Homo sapiens: one gene and its partners. The protein of the gene in region 1 purifies or fractionates together with the protein of each later gene. This does not show direct contact. Each region holds a gene or a part of one and is shown in the gene's direction. Other genes may lie near its edges. The genes, in order: HADH, MMAB, OSBPL11, RSU1, OAS1, BPHL and PITPNA.

What was found.
Region 2: the proteins of HADH (region 1) and MMAB fractionate together in Homo sapiens (co-fractionation; one large-scale study listed by BioGRID). This does not show direct contact.
Region 3: the proteins of HADH (region 1) and OSBPL11 purify together in Homo sapiens (co-immunoprecipitation; one large-scale study listed by IntAct). This does not show direct contact.
Region 4: the proteins of HADH (region 1) and RSU1 fractionate together in Homo sapiens (co-fractionation; one large-scale study listed by BioGRID). This does not show direct contact.
Region 5: the proteins of HADH (region 1) and OAS1 purify together in Homo sapiens (co-immunoprecipitation; one large-scale study listed by IntAct). This does not show direct contact.
Region 6: the proteins of HADH (region 1) and BPHL fractionate together in Homo sapiens (co-fractionation; one large-scale study listed by BioGRID). This does not show direct contact.
Region 7: the proteins of HADH (region 1) and PITPNA fractionate together in Homo sapiens (co-fractionation; one large-scale study listed by BioGRID). This does not show direct contact.

The regions. Positions count from the first base shown.
Region 1 is NC_000004.12:108,027,889-108,031,388, forward strand, and holds part of HADH (hydroxyacyl-coenzyme A dehydrogenase, mitochondrial isoform 2 precursor), read left to right. Parts: intron 1-50; exon of another isoform or gene 51-181; intron 182-3,500. UniProt on the Homo sapiens protein: Mitochondrial fatty acid beta-oxidation enzyme that catalyzes the third step of the beta-oxidation cycle for medium and short-chain 3-hydroxy fatty acyl-CoAs (C4 to C10).
Region 2 is NC_000012.12:109,560,005-109,563,504, reverse strand, and holds part of MMAB (corrinoid adenosyltransferase MMAB precursor), read left to right. Parts: intron 1-1,652; coding exon 1,653-1,725; intron 1,726-1,987; coding exon 1,988-2,085; intron 2,086-2,175; coding exon of another isoform or gene 2,176-2,262; intron 2,263-2,400; coding exon 2,401-2,465; intron 2,466-3,500. UniProt on the Homo sapiens protein: Converts cob(I)alamin to adenosylcobalamin (adenosylcob(III)alamin), a coenzyme for methylmalonyl-CoA mutase, therefore participates in the final step of the vitamin B12 conversion.
Region 3 is NC_000003.12:125,529,498-125,532,997, reverse strand, and holds part of OSBPL11 (oxysterol-binding protein-related protein 11), read left to right. Parts: intron 1-983; coding exon 984-1,137; intron 1,138-2,417; coding exon 2,418-2,483; 3' UTR 2,484-3,500. UniProt on the Homo sapiens protein: Plays a role in regulating ADIPOQ and FABP4 levels in differentiating adipocytes and is also involved in regulation of adipocyte triglyceride storage. Weakly binds 25-hydroxycholesterol. Interacts with OSBPL9 to function as lipid transfer proteins.
Region 4 is NC_000010.11:16,593,925-16,597,424, reverse strand, and holds part of RSU1 (ras suppressor protein 1), read left to right. Parts: intron 1-3,500. UniProt on the Homo sapiens protein: Potentially plays a role in the Ras signal transduction pathway. Capable of suppressing v-Ras transformation in vitro.
Region 5 is NC_000012.12:112,905,683-112,909,761, forward strand, and holds the start of OAS1 (2'-5'-oligoadenylate synthase 1), read left to right. Parts: upstream 1-1,279; 5' UTR 1,280-1,357; coding exon 1,358-1,537; intron 1,538-2,853; coding exon 2,854-3,142; intron 3,143-4,079.
Region 6 is NC_000006.12:3,149,711-3,151,894, forward strand, and holds part of BPHL (serine hydrolase BPHL isoform 1 precursor), read left to right. Parts: intron 1-312; coding exon of another isoform or gene 313-349; exon of another isoform or gene 350-434; intron 435-2,184. UniProt on the Homo sapiens protein: Specific alpha-amino acid ester serine hydrolase that prefers small, hydrophobic, and aromatic side chains and does not have a stringent requirement for the leaving group other than preferring a primary alcohol.
Region 7 is NC_000017.11:1,531,793-1,535,292, reverse strand, and holds part of PITPNA (phosphatidylinositol transfer protein alpha isoform), read left to right. Parts: coding exon 1-111; intron 112-1,071; coding exon 1,072-1,194; intron 1,195-3,500. UniProt on the Homo sapiens protein: Catalyzes the transfer of phosphatidylinositol (PI) and phosphatidylcholine (PC) between membranes. Shows a preference for PI and PC containing shorter saturated or monosaturated acyl chains at the sn-1 and sn-2 positions.

The DNA.
Region 1 (3,500 bases):
TGAGCTCAGCTGCACCCTGAGCCCTGGTACCTTTTTCACTGTTTTCCCAGGGCCTCCTGGCTTCCCTGTGGGCCTCTGAGAAAGGTTTCTGGAACTCCCACCACCCCCACTACAGTCCCAGCCAGAGCAATTGCATGGCCGGCCCAGATTGATATCCTGGATCTCTGCTTTTGATTAAAAGGTTTACTGCTTTTAAAAATAATCATAATGTAAAAATCACTAGGCTAGGAGATCTTGAAAGTTCCTTAAGGTTCTAAAACTTGTGACTGACAGGTGATTAGAAATATGTGACAAGGCCGATATGTGGTAAGGACAGTTTTTAGTAGTCTGTCCTTACTGAGTGATGTCATGATGTACTTTTTGTAACCTTAAGAATGGTGTAAACAGTTTTCCTCAGTACTTGATTGACAAAGAATGCTTTTCTCTGCTGTAGAAATATCAGATTTGGGACAGGGTCCAGGCCTCTAAATTGATCTGCATTCTCCTGCCTGCTTTCCCTCCCTGGTTTCTGGAAAGGTAGCTCTCATGTCTGCTTCAAAGGCAAACAAGCCTTAATAGGACTGGATAAAAAGCAAGTGTAATTGTTTTCAATTACTTCATTCATAAATGCTCACTCCTGAGAGTGTCATTTTTTAAACAAAACATTTACACCAGCTCTTCCAGAGAGATGAAAGCACATTTGCTTCCTCAAAATCTGCTTTAAATATTAAAACTTTTCTCTATGGTTTATGGAAGCAATTGCCTCACTTTTGCTCCAAGATCAAACCAACAGTTCTGGTTTATCTATCAACAAATATGCCTAATTACACCTCAAAGAAAGCACAGAGCATTTTACCCTACCTTGAAAGGCAGTTGTATGTCTTTTTTTTTTTTTTAACAAAATGTAATGTTTTAGAATGTAGCATGTGAGAGATCCACCTTTTAATGGTGTTTTCCTCACTGTCCATTTGATGCATTCTCCAATGCACCAAGTATCAGATGGTAAGTTGAAAGCCCTCTTCTTGTCTGTGGTCCCTTTCTGCATAGGTGCATGCCCTTTAGCCCTCACCATCCCTGGCCGCCTGTGGGCTGAAGCTGGAAGAGCAGGACCTGGCCTCAGGACATGCTCTTAGCTTGCTCTGGGCATGGGCTTCAACAGCCTATCATTGCTGGTCCCTCTGCTTCTTTTTCCACCACCTTCTCAGAATCTGCTTCTGAAGTTGCTGGGTGTCCTGCCTGGGGTGGGTGCTGCTTCCCTACTGCACACTACAGTCACACCCTAGGCCTCTTACCATGTCCCCCCGCCCACCACCTGCTCCCTCCTCTCAGCCAACACAGAGGAGTGCTCAGAGCATGCCCACCGTGCCATCTCCGTTCATACAGTTCCACCTTGAAGCTTCAAGCATCTGGAGGCTCCTTCTCGTCTGCCACATCTGTTCATCACTTTTGATTCCTTCCTGTCATGCCTGTTCCACCTCTTCATCCCACCTTTTCCCCATCCCAGTCAGGCTGCCTTCATGAGGTTCCTTAGGTAGCAGAGTAATTCACGCTACTCATGTCTTTTCCTGACTGGTCCCCGCTACTGCACTTACTGAGAAAGTATCATATTGTCCAGGAAGTTGAGACACCGCCTACTGCATCTGCCCACACACCCCCTGCACAGCCTCGGCAGGAGCTCTGTGACTGTTTCTGAACTCATGCAAGGAGAAATTTTCTGTACCCCACTGTTGATACACCTGGGGTTCCAGGCACATGGTTTGGCCAATGCTGCCTTGAGTGGTGCAGGCTCTCTGGAAGGATGTGTGTGCTGTTGTAGGTCAGGCCTCCTGGATGACCGGGCCTCTGCCACTAACACTTCTTGCCAGTCCCCATGGGATCTCGTGGAGGCTCACGCCCTTTTGCTCTGCTGTTTGTCCACTCATTTTGGCTTCCATGTTGGGCCTTCTTTCCCAGTATCCCAGCTCCGTCCTCACTCTTCCTATTGCTCTTGTTCGTTCACACTGTGACTGAGGCCTGATGCATGCCCCAGTCACTGTCACTCCTGTGAGTCAGAGGGACAGAGGCTGGATAGGCTGTGTCTGACAGTGGACTGCTGCCCTTGCCAGGCACCCACTCCTAATGGCCAGTGTGGGCAGGATGGTGGGGCCAAATGGTCAGCTCTTCTCAGGAGGGCTCTGCTGGCAACAGGCCTGGGAGCACCATGAGCCTGCCCCCCAGTCACCATGTGACATCTTGCTCACATTGTCGCCCCTGCTCAAGACAGGCTCAGTGGTTCTCTGGTTTCCTGCCATCTACAAGCTCTGCCAGAGAGCCTTCCTTCTGGCCAACCTCTGCCCCTGCTGTTATCACCGCCAACTACTCCTGCCATTCCCACGTTGCCCCACCTGAGTGTCTGCAGAGCTCCCAGCTGGACATCATCTCTGTCATCACAACTCTTCTTGCTTTGGCTCTCCCTTGGGTCACTTGTCACTGTCTTCCCTGTGGCATGGCAGGTGTTTTCTTTCCCTTACTATACTCTCTTTTCTGGGGCACTCTGGCTCCTCCTCATCTTCATATGTCCCAAGGTGCTGTGTAGGGCGGGCACATAGGCAGCTGCTGATGAGTAAAAATGCTGTTTCTGAGTTGTTGCTAAGTGCCTCTGTTGTTCATGCTAAGAATGGTTGGCAGGTGGTGCTGCTGAGCCAGACAAAGAAGCAGATGTTGGGCAAGTCCCAGCCCCTCAGCTGTGCTGATCTGGAGTTCACTGAGGAAGCTTTCCTTTGCTGTCTTGTCTGGAGTTAGGGGCTCTTAACTGGAGGGAGGTAGGAGAGGGTGTCCAATGAACCTCCTAAAGTTGACGCAGAATTTGGGTTATATGTGCATTTTTTATGGAAAGGGTGTCTGATTGTCAGAAGTACTTGATTCTAAAGAAGTTTAAGAATTATTAGTTTAAAACATGATTCCACATCTAACTGTCACTTGGCACACCAATCTCTGTATTTTGTTTCTCTGTTTCTGAAAGTTTGCCTCTTTTGCTCTGCATTATTGAGAACACGATCTTTAGAGTTGGGCTGACTTTGTAGAGTTATTTAGATATTTTTCTATCATGTGCTGTATCTTCATATTATTTCTTGAAATAAAACAGTCCTCAAGTGAGTCTCTGAATATGGAATTACAGCGTTGCTTCTAGGGTTAATTGTCCTGTCCTTGAATATAGATTTCATTAAATGGCTTTAGCTGAGTTGCAACCATTATGCTGTCAGATTTCTGTCCCAGGGAGACTGCCAGTAACAAATGAACCAGTACATAAGCATGTTAGGTTGTGATGAGTAATTGTGGAGAAGAAGATAGTAAGGGGTGGCAAGAGTCTTGTCCTAGTGTCCTGGCCTTTTCTTTAGTGCAGGGAGTTGCTTTTTTTATATATGCAGGGAGGAGAAGAGGCTGTCAGAAGTATGACACCTGAGCAGAGGCCTGGAGGAAGTGAGAGACTGAGCTCCGAAGCTGTCTGAGGGCAGCACCTAGGCACAGGGAGCATATCCCAA
Region 2 (3,500 bases), on another chromosome or scaffold:
CCCAGCCTTGGCACTGTGAGGGCGGGGACAGTGTCTGGTTCACCTGGGAGCCCCGCCTGGCCTGGTAGCCGCTCGCAGGGCCTGTGGATGAGGCCGGGCAGCAATGCCACTGCTTTCCTCATATCACCCATTTCACCCTCACAGACACCCGTGAGGTGGAAGTTAATGTCCACAGCTTATAGGGAGCCAAACTGAGCCTCAGAAAGGCTGACTTGCCCAGCCCCCACAGCCAGGCATCAGTAGAGCTGGAATCTGATTCCCAAACTGGTGCCATTTCTCCCCAGCCCTTGGGGTACACGCTGCACGTGGCCAACCAAGTGGGTAGTATTATCACTCCCGCTTTGACTGTGAAAGTGCAGAGACCCCAAGCAGGGAAGCAGCTTGCCCAAGGTCTGCTGGTCAGAAGCCCTGGGAAGGTTCCAGCCCAGTGCTGGATGGGCAGCCTCTGCTCTCACACACCATGGCCTGCTTCTTGAATGCTGTCACAGTGGCCATCTTAGGAGAGGTCAGAAGTCGCAGACCTTCACCCTCCTGGTAGCCCACCATCCAGCTTGAGTGGACCCTGGCTGGGCACAAAGTCAGAGGTGGTACTTGTGGTCTTCACATGCATGAGAGCTGTTGGACATTTGTCATGCAGGGGCCTGGAGTCCTGCAGCAGACCTTAACAGACCACTTCTGTTCCAAGCAAACCCACTCCCCACCTGGACAGAGCACAGGCCTCACCCAGCCAGGCTTCCTGCTCCCAGAATCCCCACACGCCTCGGCTGACTACATTCTCCAAGCTCCTTGTCCTTTAGAGTTTAGAAAGCACTGTCACATTTGACCTCTTGGCCCAACTGTTACAGGTTAGAAAACCAAAGCTGTCAAATGTTGAGAAAAGAAGAAAACCTCACAGGGCCTAGGTGCACAGGAGACGTGGACAGAGCCCAGACGGTTCCTCTTGACTGTCCCTGGGTGTGTGATGCGTGTCATCTGCTTAACCCAGCTGCTGCCCCCATGGGAGCCTTTTCCTCCCTCAGACTGCAAAAGAGCCACACCAGGTCCCCCTCAGCAGGGCTGGGTGTCCAACGAAGATGTTGTGCTGAAAGTTCAGAGTTTGCTTTCAAATGTCAGCCAGTTCAAGGTCTGATAGCCTGTATTAGTCTGTTCTCGCACTGCTATAAAGAACTACCTGAGACCGGATAATTTATAAAGAAAAGAAGTTTAATCTGCACATGGTTTTGTGGGCTGTACAGGCTTCTGCTTCTGGGGAGGCCTCAGGAAACCTACAGTCATGGCGGAAGGCAAAGGGGAAGCAGGTACATCTTCACATGGCTGATAGGAGAGAGAGAGTGTGAAGAGGGAGGTGCTACACACTTTCAAACAACCACATCTCATGAGAACTCTATCACAAGACAGCACTAGGGGGCTGGGGCTAAACCATTCAAAACTACCCCAATGATCCAATCACCTCCCACCAGGCCCCACCTCCAACTCTGGGGATCACAATTTAACATGAGATTTGGATGGGGACACATTGCCAAACCATATCACAGCCCTTCATGAGCTAGCTGGCACAGGCTTTGCCGGCGTATTAGGTGGCGCCTCTGCACATTGTCTCTGTCCAGCCCATCTCACATAGATCTTGACTGTCACTTTCTGTCGCCCCCCAGATCCAGTGCACATTGCAGGACGTCGGCTCGGCCCTGGCGACACCATGCTCCTCGGCCCGGGAGGCTCACTTAAGTAATTCTCAAACTCCTGTGGGTGTTCAGAGGGCCCTAGGGTCAGGGGACTCTCCTAGGGTCACCATCTGGGATCCCAGGCCCCCAGGGACCCACGGGTGGGTCAGTTAGCCTTGCTCGTAGCTCCTGGGAGGGAAGGTACCTTCTGAGCCAGTGGAAGCAGTCTGCGGGACACCCAGGTGGAAGGGCGGCGGGGGTGGTTCCCGCCATGGTCTGGTGGGTGATGGCCTCATGGCAGTTCCCTCTGCTCCTTGGCTCCTCAGAGTATACCACGTTCAAGGCGGGGCCCATCCTGGAGCTGGAGCAGTGGATCGACAAGTACACCAGCCAGCTCCCACCACTCACGGCCTTCATCCTGCCTGTAGGTACTGGGCAGGCTTAACCGGGGGCGGCTGCAGGCAGGTTCAGTGACAGACACACATGGGCTCTGAATAAATCCCTCTTTTCACAGTGACAGACGCTGTCCTCCAGTTCCCCAAGTCCCTCCAGGTCCTCACCGGTCCCTCCCAGCCCTGCCCACTCTGGAGCAGCGTGCCCGGTGGGTGTGCCGTGGCAGGGCTCCTGGAGGCAGAACACTGCCCGGTTTGGGGGGCAGGGCTGGACTTCAGAGGAGCTCCTGTCCGCAGTGGGCACACCTTTCCCACCCTGCTCAGGCAATGTCCCTTTCTCCTTTCAGTCGGGAGGCAAGATCAGCTCGGCGCTGCATTTCTGCCGGGCCGTGTGCCGCCGGGCCGAGAGACGGTAAGAGGGCTGGAGAGAGGGAGAGGGCCCAAGGGAGAGGGAGAGGAACAAGGGGGAGGGGGGAGGGAGAGGGAGAGGAGGACGGAGATGGGGAGAGGGAGAGGGGCCTCTGCACAGCGGGCAGGAGGCAGGTACAGCAGGGCCATCTCTGAGCCATCCAGCCACACATCAACAGACCTTGTCTGGGCCCCTCCACTGTGCCAGACGGGGACCAGGACAGACCAAGTCCCTGTCCTCAGAGCACCATGTTGTGAAGTGGAGACAGTGACATGTGACCAAATAGACTATCAGACAACACAATTGCACCTTGTTTGTGAGCCCTGTATTCTGAGAACAGCAGGAAGTTATTGCTGGGTTCTCAGCCTCAGCCATCTTGGGGACAGGGGTAGACATGAAAGGACCCTGCTGGCTGCTGGGTGCATAAGGCTCCTGAAAGGCCTGCATGGCTGTGGGGAGCCCAGGTGGACGTTGTCAGCAGACTAGCCACCACCTCCTCCAAAGCTACTGACAGCCTTTTCAAGGAATCTTTAGAAGAAAATGAGCAAAGTCTCTATCTACACCACTCAGAGACCAGGCTGCCAGCCAGCTTTACAGAGAAGAGAAAGCAAGCCCTACTTTGATCCAATGGACTGGCACTTTATGTTCATAATTTCATTTACTCCTTGTTGATAGCCCTGGGAGAGAGGTGGTGGTGGCCTCTGTTTTACAGGAGTCAGGAAGCTGTGGCTCAGAGAAATGACACCATGGTCACGGTCCCCCACATGGTTGATAGCAGAATCCAGATTGGAGTCCACGTCTGTCTGGGCCAAGCCTGAGCTCTTCCACGGTCCCACACCACTAAGGTTTTGTTCTTTATGAAAGGCTCTCGGGCCCAGATAGCTCCTTAGAGATCCCAGGTAACAGAACAAGCTTTGGCTTCAAAAGAAAAAACTGTCATTTGTACAAAGCCATCCATCAGCAGTGCTCATAATAGCAAGAAACTGGAAACAACCCAAAGGCCCCGAAAACAGGCATGGCGGAGCAGCTGATAGGTCC
Region 3 (3,500 bases), on another chromosome or scaffold:
CTCTATAAATTTGCCTTTTCTGGATATTTCATATAAATCATACAATGTGTGATCTCTTATGCCTGGCTTATTTCCTTAGTATAACGTTTTTGAGGTTCATCCATGAAGTATTAATTGCATGTATCAGTGGTTCATTGCTTTTTATTGCTGAATAGTATTGCACTGTATGGATATATCACATTTTGCCTATCCATAATACTGCTGTGAACATTCTCCTACAAGTCTTTGTATGGACATTTATTTTCATTTTTCTTGGGTAAATACCCAGGAGTGGAATTGCTGGGTTTATGGTAGTTTTATGTTTAACTTACTACATTTTTTTCACATGTATATCCAGTTGTCCCAGCACCATTTGTTCAACAAACAGTTCTTTCCCTAAAGAAGTGTTGTGGCAGTTTTTTTTTGTTTTTTTTTTTTTTTGCTTGAGATTTGTTAAGCTTCCCTCTCCCTGTGCGTGGCCTAGAAACACTCTGGACAGCGAGTTAGAGCACTCATAGGACTCCCCTCATTTGTTTCCTTTCTCAAGGATCACTGCCCTGCACTGCCTTTTGCTCAGTATCTGAAAACCACTATTGTATTATATGTTGCCTGGTTTCCTGGTTGATGAAGGCAGGAAAATAAATGTGTTCCCCATTATTTCATCATGTCCAGAAGCACAATTAGTCTTGCTTACATTTCAACTTTGAAAATTTACTTCTCTTTTTACTCGTTAATTTCTAAGTTTTCTAAAAACAAAAAATCCTGCTTTTATAACCTGGAAAAATACAAATTATTTTTAATTTAAAAAGAAGCAGAAGGAGCAGCATCCTGGACATAACCATCAGCAGCACAGTATCGTTATTCTTGGAATTCATAAGCATGACATTGTAGATGTGATTTAGGAAACGTTATTTTATAAAATTATTGTAATTTTGAGGGTATTGATTCTATTTAATTATCTCTTTTAAAGAATGCTTGTAAAATGTGTGGTTTTTGGATTTCAGGCGATTGTGGAAAAATGTGACAGACTCGCTGAGAGAATCTGAAATTGATAAGGCCACAGAGCATAAGCATACCCTGGAAGAACGTCAGAGGACTGAAGAAAGGCATCGTACTGAAACAGGCACACCTTGGAAAACCAAATATTTTATTAAAGAGGTATGCTGTACATGTGTTCAAGATAAAAATGTATCTACTTGGCTGAGAACTTTAGCTTACTAGGCTTTGTTGAATTGCTATCACTTATACATCTTTATTTTTAAAAGTAGTATGGCTGTATATAAATACCAACTGTTTTTGAGACCAGCCTGGGTAACCTATAGCAAGACTCTGTCTCAAAAAAAAGGCAGATATACCAAGAACAGATTCTAAGAAAGAAGAGTTTCTAAGTGAGAACATCTATATATCATTAAAAATGAGCTAGGGGGTGGCCGGGCTCGGTGGCTCATGCCTGTAATCCCAGTACTTTGCGAGGCCGAGGCAGGCGGATCACCTGAGGTCAGGAGTTCGAGACCAGCCTGACCAACATGGAGAAACCCAGTCTCTACTAAAAATACAACATTAGCCAGGTGTGGTGGTACATGCCTGTAATCCCAGCTACTCGGGAGGCTGAGACAGGAGAATTGCTTGAACCCAGGAGGCGGAGGTTGCAGTGAGCCAAGATTGCGCCATTGCACTCCAGCCTGGGCAACAAGAGTGAAACTCTGTCTCCAAAAAAAAAAAAAAGAAAAATGAGCTGGGGGGCCTGGCGCGGTGGCTCACGTCTGTAATCCCAGCACTTTGGGAGGCCGAGGCGGGCGGATCATGAGGTCAGGAGTTTCAGACCAGCCTGGCCAACATGGTGAAACCCCCATCTCTACTAAAAATACAAAAATTAGCCGGGTATGGCACGTGCCTGTAATCCCAGCTACTTGGGAGGCTGAGACAGGAGAATTGCTTAAACCAGGGAGGCGGAGGTTGCAGTGAGCCAAGATTGTGCCACTGCACTCCAGCCTGGCTGACAGAGCAAGACTCCGTCTTGGGGGAAAAAAAAAAGGAAAGAAAAAAAATGAGTTCTGGGGTGCCAGTGGAGACAGGGAGAACAGTTAGTACCTTCCCGATCATTTCTCTGTACTCCACCTGCTGCCCATAACTCTGTGAGTGAGGCTCAATCTGTAGCATCTTGGCGAAATTGGCAAAATTGCTACAAATGGTTCTTGCAAAATTAAATGTTCATGGGTCACAAACTAGATCCTCCCATACCATGTCTTCTCACCTAAATCCTAGCTAAACCACAGGCATCGTTTGATGTCTTAATCACAAAGACTTTATTCCTTCACAAAAACTTGTTTTTGAATGTGAAAATAGAATTCCATTTCAGTGAAGGTGTTGCTTCTAGTTTTGGTTACTGATTTTGATAATATTAGAGGGATGATTCTTTATCTTTTTATTTGTTTCAGGGAGATGGCTGGGTTTATCATAAACCACTTTGGAAAATAATTCCAACAACACAACCAGCAGAGTGACACATACTATCTAAAACTCGACCAAATGAGGTTCTTCTCTGTTTACCCTAAATCCTCCCAGAATGGAGTCATTGCACTGAGTGACCTGCTTCCTGATTGCGCAGACTGAAACTAGCTAAACCTGAATGTACCTACTAGGGCACCATAATACTGCAGCAAGACCAAAGTGGTAAAGAAACACAGTGGACCTTTTACCAACCTGTTCATGTGATGTGAGCAATACCATCTTAAAACTTGTTACCTGAATCAGTAGATGAATCTTTTATCCAGTTCTTGCTCCTAAAGTTAAGTTTGAATCCCCTATTTTTGCACAGGGGCAGCAGATACACACAACAATGAGAACTCAGTGACTTTGATTTCTTTGTAGTGAAAAGTGAAGTCTCCGTTTCAGAGTTTGTGTCTTTCTTTCTGTCCATAACTGAAGTATTCACTACTCTTGTAAACCAACCAAGAGGAGGAGAAAGATGACCCAGAAGTGGATTCAGCCATTGTGCCTGAAATCAGTGTTTAAAAAAAAAAATCAACCAGGTTGTGGTAACAAGGCATTCTATTTCTTCAAAAAGACTGTATGCCTGTGTCTGAGGAACTTACCTATTATCCACCTCTGTTGGAACTCTCTTTTAAAAAGTACATTTATAGATTGATCAGAATTATAACCATGGAGAATTTTTTCTTCTGAGCATTTTAATATACTTGAAAACAACATTGACTTGAAAAATTTCAGAACATTTTTCAGTACCTAGTTTTATTAAATATTACACTTGAGAGACACTTTTTAAAAATGTGTTAATGTCAATATGATGAGATTTTAGCCTTTCTCCAGAACTAAGGCATTAAAGAAAATAGCAAATATTAAAAAATAAAACTGTTACTTTTTTCCTTCTTTCTTTTCACCTTTAGGTTAATATCCAGTATTATGTGTTATCCCTTTGGATAAGTATGCTTTATTTTACCTCTGTTAAAAATTAAAATAAATGATTCTATTCATATTTGTCAGTAATTCAAAACTTATATGTG
Region 4 (3,500 bases), on another chromosome or scaffold:
CACTGGCTCCCACCTGGCCCTTTGTAGTGACTTGTTCTGCAGCCCCAGGATGTTCAGACACACACAGTGGGATCTGAATATAAAAAGGCAGAGACTGAAACAGTGGAACATTCCAGTTCGCTCCGAAAAAGGAGAAGAGCCCTGCAGCTTTTGCAACCCCTTCTGAAATCGCTTGCCTGGATCCCCATCGTCAGGGCCAAGCTGAACACCCACCTCAGCCCTTCCCGCATTCAACACTTGACTCGAAGCAGGGCCTTGTCAATTCCTCTCAATTCCTACTGCTCCTCTCCCTCTGCTGACCTCTTATCATTGCCAAGACTCTTTCCTTACACTCGGGTATTGCTAGGTTTCCATGGGCATGAACAGTGGAGTCATCTTTCTGTCAACTTTTAGAATCCTTACAGTTTGGAGGCCAGGTGCGTGGCTCACGCCTGTAATCCCAGCCTTTCCAAGGTGGGTGGATCGTTTGAGGTCAGGAGTTTGAGACCAGCATGTCCAACGTGGCGAAACCCCCTCTCTACTAAAAATACAAAAATTAGGCAGGCATGGTGGTACACACTTGTAATTCCAGCTACTTGGGAGACTGAGGCACGAGAATCACTTGAACTCGGGAGGCAGAAGCTGCAGTGAACTGAGATACTGCCACTGCACTCCAGCCTGGGTGACAGAGCAAGACTCCATCTGAAAAAATAATAATAATAATCCTTAAAGTTTGAAACTATCTTTGAATAAAAATGTACATACGTATTTTTTTGCTCTGTGCGGATAAGGGGTTTGGGAAACAGAGGAAAGATCTCTGAGGCTGGAAGGAAGCTGTGTGTGTAGCTGAAGCTACCTAGGCCGTAGGTGCCTGTGTGAAGACACAGAGTCAGACCCTTGCTTCCTGCCAGGTGAGGGGAGCTTGGAGACCTGATGCCTCCAGGGTTTATTACTCTGCAGTGCTAAGCCCTTGAGCATTGAGTCAGTGGCCCTGAGTAGATCAACATCTGAGGACAAGGGCAGGTGCTGTTAGAGGAGTACGCATGTTTCGGAGCTTGGAGGATGAGGAATAGAATGGAGGGATCTACTTTGAGCATTTCCTCTGCCTATCTGTTGTGTCTGGGAGAGATGCCGAGGAGGAGGAACACGGGTTGAGTCCACATGGCTAATGCAGGGTGGTCCTTAACTTCGACACCTGCAGAGCCCCTTTTGTCATGTAAGGTAACATACTCCCAGGTTTCAGGACTTGAACACAGGTATCTTTGGAAATTGGGGGCAGCAACAGAGACAAGGTTGGACCCGCTGAACTTTACTCCCTATCTAAACCAGTGGTCTCCCACCTGGGACACAGGACCCAGGACCCCCAGGTGCCCATGGCCTCGTCTTCAGGGGGACCCGTGACCCTTTTAAAAGTGTAGGTTGGGGGAGCCCCTATAGGTTGAAAAATGCGCTTTCATGGAGCAGATTTTTTTTTTTCTGAGACAGAGTCTCACTCTGTTGCCAGGCTGGAGTGCAGTGGTGTGATCTTAGCTCACTGCACCCTCTGCCTCCCAGGTTCAAGTAATTCTGCTGCCTCAGCCTCCTGAGTAGCTGGGACTACAGGCATGCACCACTATGCGCAGCTAATTTTTTCTTTTTTTTAGTAGAGATGGGGTTTCACCATGTTGGCCAGGATGGTCTCCATCTCTTGACCTCGTGATCTGCCTGCCTTACCCTCCCGAAGTTCAGATTCTCTTAAGGAGTTGTTTCTTCTTCTGTGGCTTCAGAGGAGGCACAGCCGGGCTGGTCAGGACAGGGCTACTGTCTCCATTACACAAGCAAAAAGGCCTCCAAACTAATTCCTAGAGATGTGGAAAGCCAATTTGCAGGCTCTTATGTTCTCTGTCTAGGACATATGGAAACTTCTTGATGCAAAAGAATGGCCTCCCCTTTTCCTGGAGTGCAATCCCAGCACCTGGCTGGATGTGCACGCTCCGGCTCGTAGGTCTGTCTCTGGCCAGCTCTGAACCCTGTGTTCTACACTCCGTGAGAGTGACCGCCGATGGAACCTGCTTGTACCGCCTCCAAGGCAACACTTGGAAGACTGGAATAGTTAGAATACAGTATGGCCTTTCAAAACCATAGTGTCCAGCTTTCCTGGATCACAAAATCAACTGGGCAGTTCCATCTGCCAGCCCTTCCCCTCTGCCTGTCAGCCATGGTGGAGATGTCATCAAGAACACTAGTATTGGACGCCAGGCACAGTGGCTCATCCCTGTAATCCCACTTTGGGAGGCCAAGGCAGGAGGATTGCTTGGGGCCAGGAGTGTAACACCAGCCTGGGCAACCTAGTGAGACCCCATGTCTATTAAAATAATTTTTTTGTTGGGGCATGGTGGCTCACGCCTGAATCTCAGCACTTTGGGAGGCCAAGGTGGGTGGATCACTGGAAGTCAAGAGTTCAAGACCAGCCTGGCCAACATGGTGAAACCCCATTGCTACTAAAAATATGAAATTAGCTGGGCATGGTGGTGCATGCCTGTAAGCCCAGTTACTCAGGAGGCTGAGGCAGGAGAATTGCTTGAACCTGGGAGGCAGAGGTTGCAGTGAGCCAAGATCACACCACTGCACTCCAGCCTGGGCAACACAATAGGACTCCATCTCAAAAAAAAAAAAATATATATATATATGATATATAATAGATAATATAGTATATTTTATATGATATATATGATATATTATCTATATGTATCATATATTATCTATGATACATATAATATACAGATAATATATGATATAGATAATATATGATATATATCATATATATCATATTATCTATCATATATATCATATAATAGATATTATATATGATATATATATTTTTTTTAATTAGCTAGGCATGGTGGCATATATCTGTAGTCCAGCTACTCAGGAGGCTGAGCCATGAGATCGCTTGAGCCCAGGAGTTTGAGGCTGCAGTGAGCTATGATCATACACTGCCCTCCAGCCTGGGGAGCAGAGTGACAGAGTGAGACACTCAGGAAAAAAAAAAAAATGCCGGACGCCAGTATATGCTAAACAGCCCAAGATGCCAGCATCCAGAGAGTGTGCATATTCCTTGTGTGGATGCTGGAGCTGGGCCACCTGGTACAGGGACGTCAGGCTCTGTGCCAACCCTCATTCACAGCAACTGCGGGCTGTGGAGCCGGGTATGCCCTTGCTGCAGAGGACCTGAGACACCCACCAGGCTCTCTTGGAGACACAGTTATATCAATAAAAGGAGTTAAGTTTGAGCTGTATTTATTTTAGGGTGGCTTTTAATTTGGTTTAATCAGAATTACTCATAAATTATCGATTAATTACCTTCTGCTGTTCAGTTAAATCCTCTCAGCCACGGAGCCAGCTTCGCTGCGCAATGAATGCCATCCACCGTAATTATAGGGCACTTTGTCAGCATTTAATCAGCGGTACTTATTAATGTGGCATTGATGTGTGGTGGCCAGCCCCACGCTATCCATCATGGGTGAGCAGCCAGCACAGAT
Region 5 (4,079 bases), on another chromosome or scaffold:
AGCAGGGTTACAGTTCTGTGACTGTCCCTGCAGAGCAGGGCCACCCCATAGGCAGTGCCTGGAGAGCAGCAGCTCAGGGCACTTCTATAGTCACATTCATACCCACTTTTAAATACGTGCAAATTAAGGGCAGGTTATTCAGAAATTTCTAGAAGAAGGGTGGTAACTGGGTCATTGCCAGGGAATGAGTAAACTGTTCATGGTGCTGGTGCTCATGCCAGCCAGTCTTCAATCTGGCCCTGAGTCAAGCCCCACCTCCTATCTCAAAACTATTCTGCATGGTGCTGTAATGGTGGATACATGACATGTTATGTTTGGCAAAATCCATAGAACTGTAGGACACAAGAGTGAACCTTAATGTAAACCTTAATGTAAATGGACTTTTGTTAATTATGATGTATTAATATCAATTCATCAATTGTAACAAATGTATCACAGTACTGTTAATAATAGAGGAACTTATTGGCAGGAGAGAGAGCTTATGGAACTCTCTGCACATTCAGCTCAATATTTCTGTAAGCCTAAAACTGCTGTGAGAAATAAAATCCAACCTGGGCAACATAGCAAGACCTTGTCTCTACAAAAAATAAAAAATGAGCTGGGTGCAGTAACGCATGCCTGTAGTCCCAGGTATTCAGGAGGCTGGGGCAGGAGGATCCCTTGAACCCAGGAAGTTGAGGTTGCACGAGTCATGATCATGCCCCTGCACTCCAGCCTGGATAACAAAGCAAGATCCTGTCTCCAAAAAATAATAAAATAAAATAAAAATCTACTAATTGAAAGGGAAAAAAGCATAGTATAATACCATTCTTAACAAAAAGAAAAGAGACCTGTGTTTGTGTGTGTGTTAACATTTGAAAAAAATCTGGAAAGCTCTATATCAAAACGTTTATAGAGGCAATTTTGTAGTGTTAGAATCATAGATGATCTTTCCACTTCCTGGTTTTTCTGACTTTTTTTCTTTTTGCAGTGGGCATGTATTGCTGGAAAATACCACAGACAACTGTGAAAGGATTTCATCAACAACAAAAAAAAGATAAAGAAGGAAACACAAAATCTGTTAAATAAGATTTATGTTGGCTGGAGGTTAAAATGCATTTCCAGAGCAGAGTTCAGAGAAAGGCTGGGCTGCTTGTTGCTGGCTAAAGGACAAAGGGTAAGTTTCAGGAAGCAGAAGAGTGAGCAGATGAAATTCAGCACTGGGATCAGGGGAGTGTCTGATTTGCAAAAGGAAAGTGCAAAGACAGCTCCTCCCTTCTGAGGAAACGAAACCAACAGCAGTCCAAGCTCAGTCAGCAGAAGAGATAAAAGCAAACAGGTCTGGGAGGCAGTTCTGTTGCCACTCTCTCTCCTGTCAATGATGGATCTCAGAAATACCCCAGCCAAATCTCTGGACAAGTTCATTGAAGACTATCTCTTGCCAGACACGTGTTTCCGCATGCAAATCAACCATGCCATTGACATCATCTGTGGGTTCCTGAAGGAAAGGTGCTTCCGAGGTAGCTCCTACCCTGTGTGTGTGTCCAAGGTGGTAAAGGTGAGTCCAGGCCTGCCTGGCCAGGGGAGGGGTGGCTGAATGTGCAAGAGTTGAGATTGAGAATGAGAGAGAGAGAGAGAGAGAAGCAAAAACCTAGAACCCAGGGTGCAAATGTGAGTACAGAGAGCTGAGATCTTCTGGGATGGTGGTTTCTTATTTATCCACACAGCATGTTAAAATAGATTCTGGGGTGAAATCCTACATCCCTATTATTAACAAGTGACCCTCCCCCCTACTTCCCGCTGAAGTTTATGAACCACTGTCCTGGGCGATGCCCATTTCAGAAATAGGGAACTGAATCCCAGCTCTGGTAAACAGTTTGCTAATTCGTGGCCAGGCTAGGGGCTCACCATTTCTGCAGTGAAGAATCATATGTTTTGAAAGCAAATAGCACCTGCTGGCTGCAAGACCTTGAGCAAGTCACTTAACTACTCTGTGTTCCAATTTCCTCAGCCATAATCCCCAATACTGTTGCAGTCTTGCCAGTGCACCTTAATGTAGCAGCTTCTCACTGAATTAGTACCCAAGGTTCTTTGTCCTGCATCCAAGAAAATTAAGGAACATGGACACAAACGTGAGCTTGGAGCAAAAGTTCAGTAAGCAAAAGAAGAAAGCTGTCTCCACTGTGGAGAGGGAAGTCTGAGTGGATTGCCAGATTGCAGCTGAATGCAAAAAACTTTTATAAGAAACCACTCTCCTCCCTGTAACTGTTTGAGAAACTTTTTATCAGTAAAGCTGTGCAACTTCCCTTACCTTATGCAGCTGTGGGTATATCTCTAGGCAAGCATAAAGCGCTGCTTCTCTTGTATGTATAACTGTGGATTTGTTTTAGGTAAGTCCCACTCCCTGCGCCAGTTTCAGGCAGGCCGCTCCTCCAGGGCCCAGCCTTGACCATTTACCTAACTGATTTTTCCTCTACTTTCCCTCAATACCTCATAGGGCCGTGTAGATTAAGTAAAATAGTAAGTGTGAACCACCCAGCATAAGCTAGTCCTGGGCATCGTAAAGGACAATGGGAAAAGAACACAGATCCTGGAAGAAGGCCCCCAGGTTTGAATTGTATTTGCCACCTACTAGCTGGGTGATGGGGCTGATATATTATCTCACTGAGCATCCATTTTCCCATCTGTAAAATGGGAACTAATGATAATGGCATCCAAATCATAGCATCATTGTGAGCATTATAGGAGTTTAAGACATGCAATGCCTTCAGAACAGTGGCTAGTGCTCCATAATGTTAGTGATTGCTCCTGTCATTTTATTTAGGGAGGTTTGCCTCACTAAGCATCAATTATTATTTTTGTCGTCTTTTTCAGGGTGGCTCCTCAGGCAAGGGCACCACCCTCAGAGGCCGATCTGACGCTGACCTGGTTGTCTTCCTCAGTCCTCTCACCACTTTTCAGGATCAGTTAAATCGCCGGGGAGAGTTCATCCAGGAAATTAGGAGACAGCTGGAAGCCTGTCAAAGAGAGAGAGCATTTTCCGTGAAGTTTGAGGTCCAGGCTCCACGCTGGGGCAACCCCCGTGCGCTCAGCTTCGTACTGAGTTCGCTCCAGCTCGGGGAGGGGGTGGAGTTCGATGTGCTGCCTGCCTTTGATGCCCTGGGTGAGAGCTCCCAGCTTCTTTTTCTCCCTCTTCCCATTTCTGAGCAGAAATCTCCCACAGTTTGAGAGCTTTTTGCCCCAACAGGGCATCTCTCTAAAGCAGGGTGGGAGGAGATCTTAGGATCTGTCCCGGGGCAAGAATGAATACGGTCATGATCTATCACAGGAGAGACATTAAACAGCAAATTGGCATAATGTGGGGACAAAGACATTTCTTACAGAACATCTGCAAGGCTTACTGGTTCTGTTTAAGGCAAAATGTGTGAATTTTATCTTTCTAAAATCAGGCAGCAAAGATGTGGCTTAAAGTTCATGTTACTCTCATCTTTGTCCCAACATGAGATCTCATCAAACGTATGCAGCACGTTGGGAGATAGATATTTATAATTTGCAGGAACATTTGGACAGGAAGTGTAACCTCTCAGAGGCTCCCTTGCCACATCAGGAGAATTGGTAAAACCACACTACCTGTATCATATCATTATTTTAAGTGATAAATGATCATCTACATTCAGCTCTGATGAGTAATAGGTGTTCAAAAATAGGAACTTCCAGCCAAGTGTGGTGGCTCATGCTTGTAATTCCAACACTTTTGGAGGCTGAGGCAGGAGGGTCGCTTGAGCCCAGGAGTTCAAGACCAGCCTGGGCAGCAAAGTGAAACCTCATCTCTACTAAAAATTTTAAAACATTAGCCAAGTGTGGTGGTACATGCCTGTGGTCGCAGTTATTCAGGACGCTGAGACTGAACGATCACATGAGGCCAGCCAAGGATTCGAGGTGTCAGTGAGCCACGAATGTACCACTGCACTCCATCCTAGGCACAGAGCAAGAGCAAGACCCTGTCTCAATCAATCAGTCAATCAGTCAAAACTATGAATTTCCCAGCTGTATATGAAGGCACCTCAAAACACCACAGTGAACTCACAGAGGGACACGGA
Region 6 (2,184 bases), on another chromosome or scaffold:
CAACCTCCGCCTACTGGGTTCAAGTGATTCTGCCTCAGCCTCCCGAGTAGCTGGGATTATAGGCGCGCATCACCACGCCGGCTAATTTTTGTGTTTTTGGTAGAGATGGAGTTTCACCACATTGACCAGGCTGGTCTCGAACTCCTGACCTCAAGTGATCCACCTGCCTCGGCCTCCCAAAATGCTGGGATTACAGGCGTGAGCCACCGTGCCCAGTCTAGTACCTTTTTCTTAGGTGGGGCTTTCTAGAAGAAGCAGAATGAAAAAGGAAAATATTTAGTTTCTGAATAAAAAGGGGCTATTGGCAACCAGGTTTGGATGGCGTCAGAAGGAATGCCTGAAGAAGTGATATGCCATGTTGCTGCCCAGTTTCACACTGGAAGAGATCCTGTGCAAAGATCCAGCGGCCTGCTTTGGGTTCCAGTAAACACAAAAGTACGTACTGGCACTCTGCGGATTACAGACTCACTGACAACTTCATGGATTCATAGATCAAGTTTTGTTACATTGATCCAAGGTGAAGGCACGCCACAGCAGGTTACTTGTGGCCTTGTTACTGTCTGTAACTCCCTGAGTTACAGATGAAAGTTCAGCTAAAGATGAAAAGGGCTCCAGGCGGGGCAGGAAAGGTAGCATCGTGAGGCCAGCATCTCACCTATGGCATTTTGACCTAAAAGAGCTGTATCAACAGAGGTAAAGTGACCCATACATTTACCTTGGGGTTAGACAGCTTCTAGTTCCTTGGACTATCTGGAACCATGTCTCTTTCTGAAGGTGCCACATGCAGTGAGGAACCTGCCCTGGCAGAGGAACTCGTGTTCATCCTCTGAGGCCCCTTCGTTTCCAACTGAGCCATGTGCTTAGCAGTTGGGGGTTTCCTACTAATTTTTCGGAGAATGTTATTGTTTGAAAAGTGCTCTCCACAGAGCATGTGATTAGATCTTTTTGTTACTTGGGTGAGAATCTAGAGCTCCTGTCTTGCCTTGACAGCTAATATTCATGCCCATCTATTGTGGTCCTGTTTCCAAAGAGGAACACACAACAGAGTTTCTGTGCAGTGAAACCTGTGTCAGACCTAAAGGAGGCAAGGGCTGCTGAGGAGCTTGAAATGACCCTTAAAAGATATCAAGGAGAAGAGTTGTCTTCATACTCTCTTCTATCTGTCTGTCCATCTGTCTATTCATCCATTCATCCATCCAGCATTCAGAGCAGGTCTCCCATATTTTAATGAAGGGAACCTCATTTTTATTTCCCCAAGATCTAGAGATTAGGAAGAGTGCAGACAGTGCTGAACGGCTAAAAAGAAACGATTCACAGCGAGGTTCTCCTTCCTTCCTTATGGGAAACCAACAAATCATAGCCAGATAGGCTGGACTGTCTACAGAGAAAGACTTCACATGTGGCAGGCTGGGGATTCCCTGCCTCCCAGTCCAGCTTAGTGCAGATTAGGGGATGCAATTTAGCCTATACGTGACCTTCTATGACCTCGCAGCATCCTTGGCAATTCGTTCTTTCCTGTTTCCTGAAAACAAAGGCCTTGAGTGTCCCTGCAAGCCCTGTTCCTTGTGTAGGCAACTGGGATCCTATCTCTGGGGTGGGTGCAACTCATCCTTCTTTTCTGAATAGTGTTAAAGTTGAATTTAGAATGTCGTGATTGTTAGTAATAGCATTACTAATGTTCCAAGGCCCTCGGAAAGGTCCCAACAATATGTCTTCCTTTCAAGTTGATTCTCTTGGTACCCCATTCCCACCCCCAATGTGGTGGCTGAGTTGGAAGAGGCCCAGCATCTTCCAAGCACAGCTCCCTGCCCCACAGTTCCTCCCTCGCACCTACTGAGGTTCTGAGCTGTCAGCCCCCCAGTATTGAAACTCAAAAAATTAGGGAACATGATAACGCATTCTGCCCTAATATTGTCCTTTTAATGTCTAATTATCATTGTAGACAAAGTGGCTTGAACTTAGGCTTTCATCCTAGAAGCTTTACCACTTTTACTGTTTCTATACTTTTGTAGCTAATAAGTCAAATGTAGAACAAAGAGAAGGCTGCATTTGTTCAGGAAACTGTAAATCTGTCCCATTTGATCACAATCCTGTTGAAAGGAAGAAGCCTTACGAGGACAGTGTGTTTGCTACAATGCTGAGCCGTGACAGCTGCAGCAGCGGCTCCTGGAGCACAGGGCTGCT
Region 7 (3,500 bases), on another chromosome or scaffold:
CAAGAGCTTGTAAACCAGAAGGACTGCCCATATATGTGTGCATACAAACTGGTGACCGTCAAGTTCAAGTGGTGGGGCCTGCAGAACAAAGTGGAGAACTTCATCCATAAGGTAAGTAGCTCGGCTGAGGCCTTCCCAGTGACTGCGTGTGTGTGTTGTGGGGGGGTGGTGGAGAACTTCATCCATAAGGTGAGTAGCTCGGCTGAGGCCTTCCCAGTGACTGCGTGTGTGTGCGGTGGGGGGTGGTGGAGAACTTCATCCATAAGGTAAGTAGCTCGGCTGAGGCCTTCCCAGTGACTGCGTGTGTGTGCGGTGGGGGGTGTTTGGCCCAGTGAAGAAGATGGCCCAGCCCATGTGGCCTGCATGACAGGGTTGCCAACATGAGCATACCTCACAGTTTGGCGGCTTCCCAGCTGCCCACCTTCCCTTGCACTGAAATGTCTTACGGTTTAATGCTGTCCTTCCAGGGACACCACATGTGACAGGGAAGGAAACTGAGGCAAAAGAAGGCCACAGGAAGGGACTTGCTATGACTGACCTACAGATAAAACTCAGTCTTTCTTTTCTTGCAGCTGAAAGGCAAGAGGTGCTGGGAGCCAGGTTGGCCGGTGCCCTGAATTACTCTGCTGGGCAGGTCTAAGGAGTTTTAGAGCCTTTTAATCCTCCGACATGTTTGAGCCTCACTTGGGCCATATTTCATAGCTGCTGGCCAGTTTTAATCTGGCATTAGACACCAGAGACAGGAAGAAATGTGGCAGTGGTTTGGGGCCCTTGGCTTGCCTAGGAGTTCATGGGCTGCTGTCTTGCTGGTGCTTTGGGCAGAGGGCCTAGTGTGAGGTAGGCATCCTTCTTTCTTGGGGGCTCCCTCCTATGTGAAGCCATACCTGTTAGACACGTGAAGGCAAAGGTCATTGACCCATGGCTGGTCCAGATAACCAGCCGGGCATTACTCCTCCTCCTGTCCGCCCGTCCCCAGTCTAGTGTGGGTATTCGTGTGGAGTGCATGGAGAGAAGGGCTGTGGCAGCAGCCTTTGCCTTCTGCGTTCTAACGTGGTTCCCTCCTTTCTATAGCAAGAGAGGCGTCTGTTTACAAACTTCCACAGGCAGCTGTTCTGTTGGCTCGATAAGTGGGTTGACCTGACCATGGACGACATTCGAAGGATGGAAGAAGAGACGAAGAGACAGCTGGATGAAGTAAGTGGGGGCTCTGGGGGCTCTCAATTAGATAAACAAACGAAGATTAAGGAGACTGTTTTGCTGGGGCGCTTCACCGAGAGCACCATCCTGTAGTTCTGGGAACACGTCAGTGTCTGCTACAGGGACGGTATCCTGGGCAGTACGTGGGCACTATACGGAAGAAAACAGCCTGTGCTCTTGAATTGACAGTTGAGTTGAAGTCTTGGCATACCCACAGAGACAAAAATGGCAGTATGTGCCGAATGCCAAGTGGGTAATACAGCTGCTACAGCGATGCTTCAGAGCCTGGTGGGAAAGAGCGTGCGGGGCTGCAGAGCTGGAGGTGACCCTGGGAGGAGGCAGGCTGGGCTGACCTGTGAATACCATGCACATTACCCACAGAGGACAGCCACAGCGCACGCAGGAGCTGACAGCTGGCGGCTGTCTACGGTCATTTTGAGCTATCAGAGTTGAGAGCTTTTGCTTTTCTTTTTTTGGTCTTGGCGTGGATCGCAGAAGGAGGGTTCCCTGTTCCTTAGGAGCCTAAAGACCCAGCACTTCTCATGCCTCATTTGGAGATGCTGATGCTTCCTTGAGAGGCCCACTCAGAGGAGATTGTCAGTTAGTAACATTCAAGCACTCACTGTGTGCCGTCTACCATTCTGAGGGCCTTTACCTACTGCAGTCTTCACGATACCCCATGAGGAGGCGCTGCTGCTCTCCCTACCCTCAGATGAGGAAGTGGAGGCTCTGAGAGCTCAATGCTGCGGTGCTCTGGGTCACACCGTCTTGCAGGTGATATGGTCAGAGTAAGAGCCCAGGACTCTCTGGCCCTGGAACCACAGCTCTTAATCACTCCCCTGTACTCCTCCCTCTAAATGCAATTTTGGGCCCTCCTGCCATCTTGGAGCTAAAAATATGATAAGGCAGGAAGCTCTGTTTCATAAGAACTGCCATCACTTCTCCCTCCTTGCCCCAGGTGGGGTTGGCATGGAGTTTGGGTATCCAGTAGAGGCATTGCTTTGCAACAGCCCACTCAGCTCTCCTGCAGGGCCTCAGGTGAGAGCCAGGCTTGGGCGCCCATGCTGCCCATGCTGCACGGACGGTGTCTGCTTCACCATGCTGGTCTAGGGCGAAAATTGGGTCCAGAAGTTCTTCCTCTGGAACCCCGCAGGGAACTGTTTTTACCATCCAGAATGACACTTTTCCTGGGCTGACTCACTGGTAAGTGGTGCACTGAGTTGGTTCCTCTTGAAGACAGATGTTTTGGTTATTCATTTAGCTACATTTAGCAGGGAAGTGGCAGGATTTCATTGGGGCACAGTCCCTGATTCTTTCGCTAAGGATCTTTAGGAAGGGGTAGACCTCAGTGTCCAGGGGTCTGGTGATTGTGACTGTGTAAGAGAAGCCTGAGGCTTTTGGTCACCCTAGTCCTGACAAAAAGAAAGGGAAAATGTTAACAAATGAGGAAACATGGAGACTTTCATTGGAGTTTTAGCCTGGAGCTTCAGCCATCCACTGCCTGACAAAGGCCAGCATGACGTATGTTGGGGTTCGTGGAAGTATTTGCTGTCCACCTTTCATTCCTTCGGGTAGAACTCAAATTCTTGGAGCTAGAAGAACTCTCCAGAGGATCTACTGGATCTGCTTTGTTCAGATCCAAACTTTGAGAGCCCTCAGTGTTAGAGAGTTATTTTTTAATCTCTCAGACCCTTTTGAAAATCTTTCTCGGCCAGGCACGGTGGCTCACACCTGTAATCCCAGCACTTTGGGAGGCTAAGGTGGGCAGATCACGAGGTCAGGAGTCTGAGACCAACTTGGCCAACATGGTGAAACCCTGTCTCTACTAAAAATAAAAAAAATTAGCCAGGCGTGGTGGCGGACACCTGTAATCCCAGCTGCTCAGGAGGCTGAGGCAGGAGAATCGCTTGAACCCAGGAGGCAGAGGTTGCAGTGAGCAGAGATCATGCCATTGCACTCCAGCCTGGGCGACAGAGCAAGACTCCGTCTCAAGGAAAAAAAGAAAAAGAAAAGAAAATCTTTCTCCATTCCATGGAGAATCATGCCAAAAGCTTAGGTGATCACTGTCCTCCAGGATAACTGCAAATAGAAGAAACTCTCTTTGGAATTAGAATTTTAAAACTCATCTGCAGTGGGAGAGAAAGCAAGTCCACCTCATTGTGGTACATGTTGTGGTCTCTTCAGCAACTGTGCAGGACCTTTGTGTGCTGACTACGCTTGATGTGGCTTGCCTTTTTATTTTTTTGTCTATCTAAAAATATATGTTTCATCAAAGTTATATTTTGTAGTTTTAAAACTCAGCA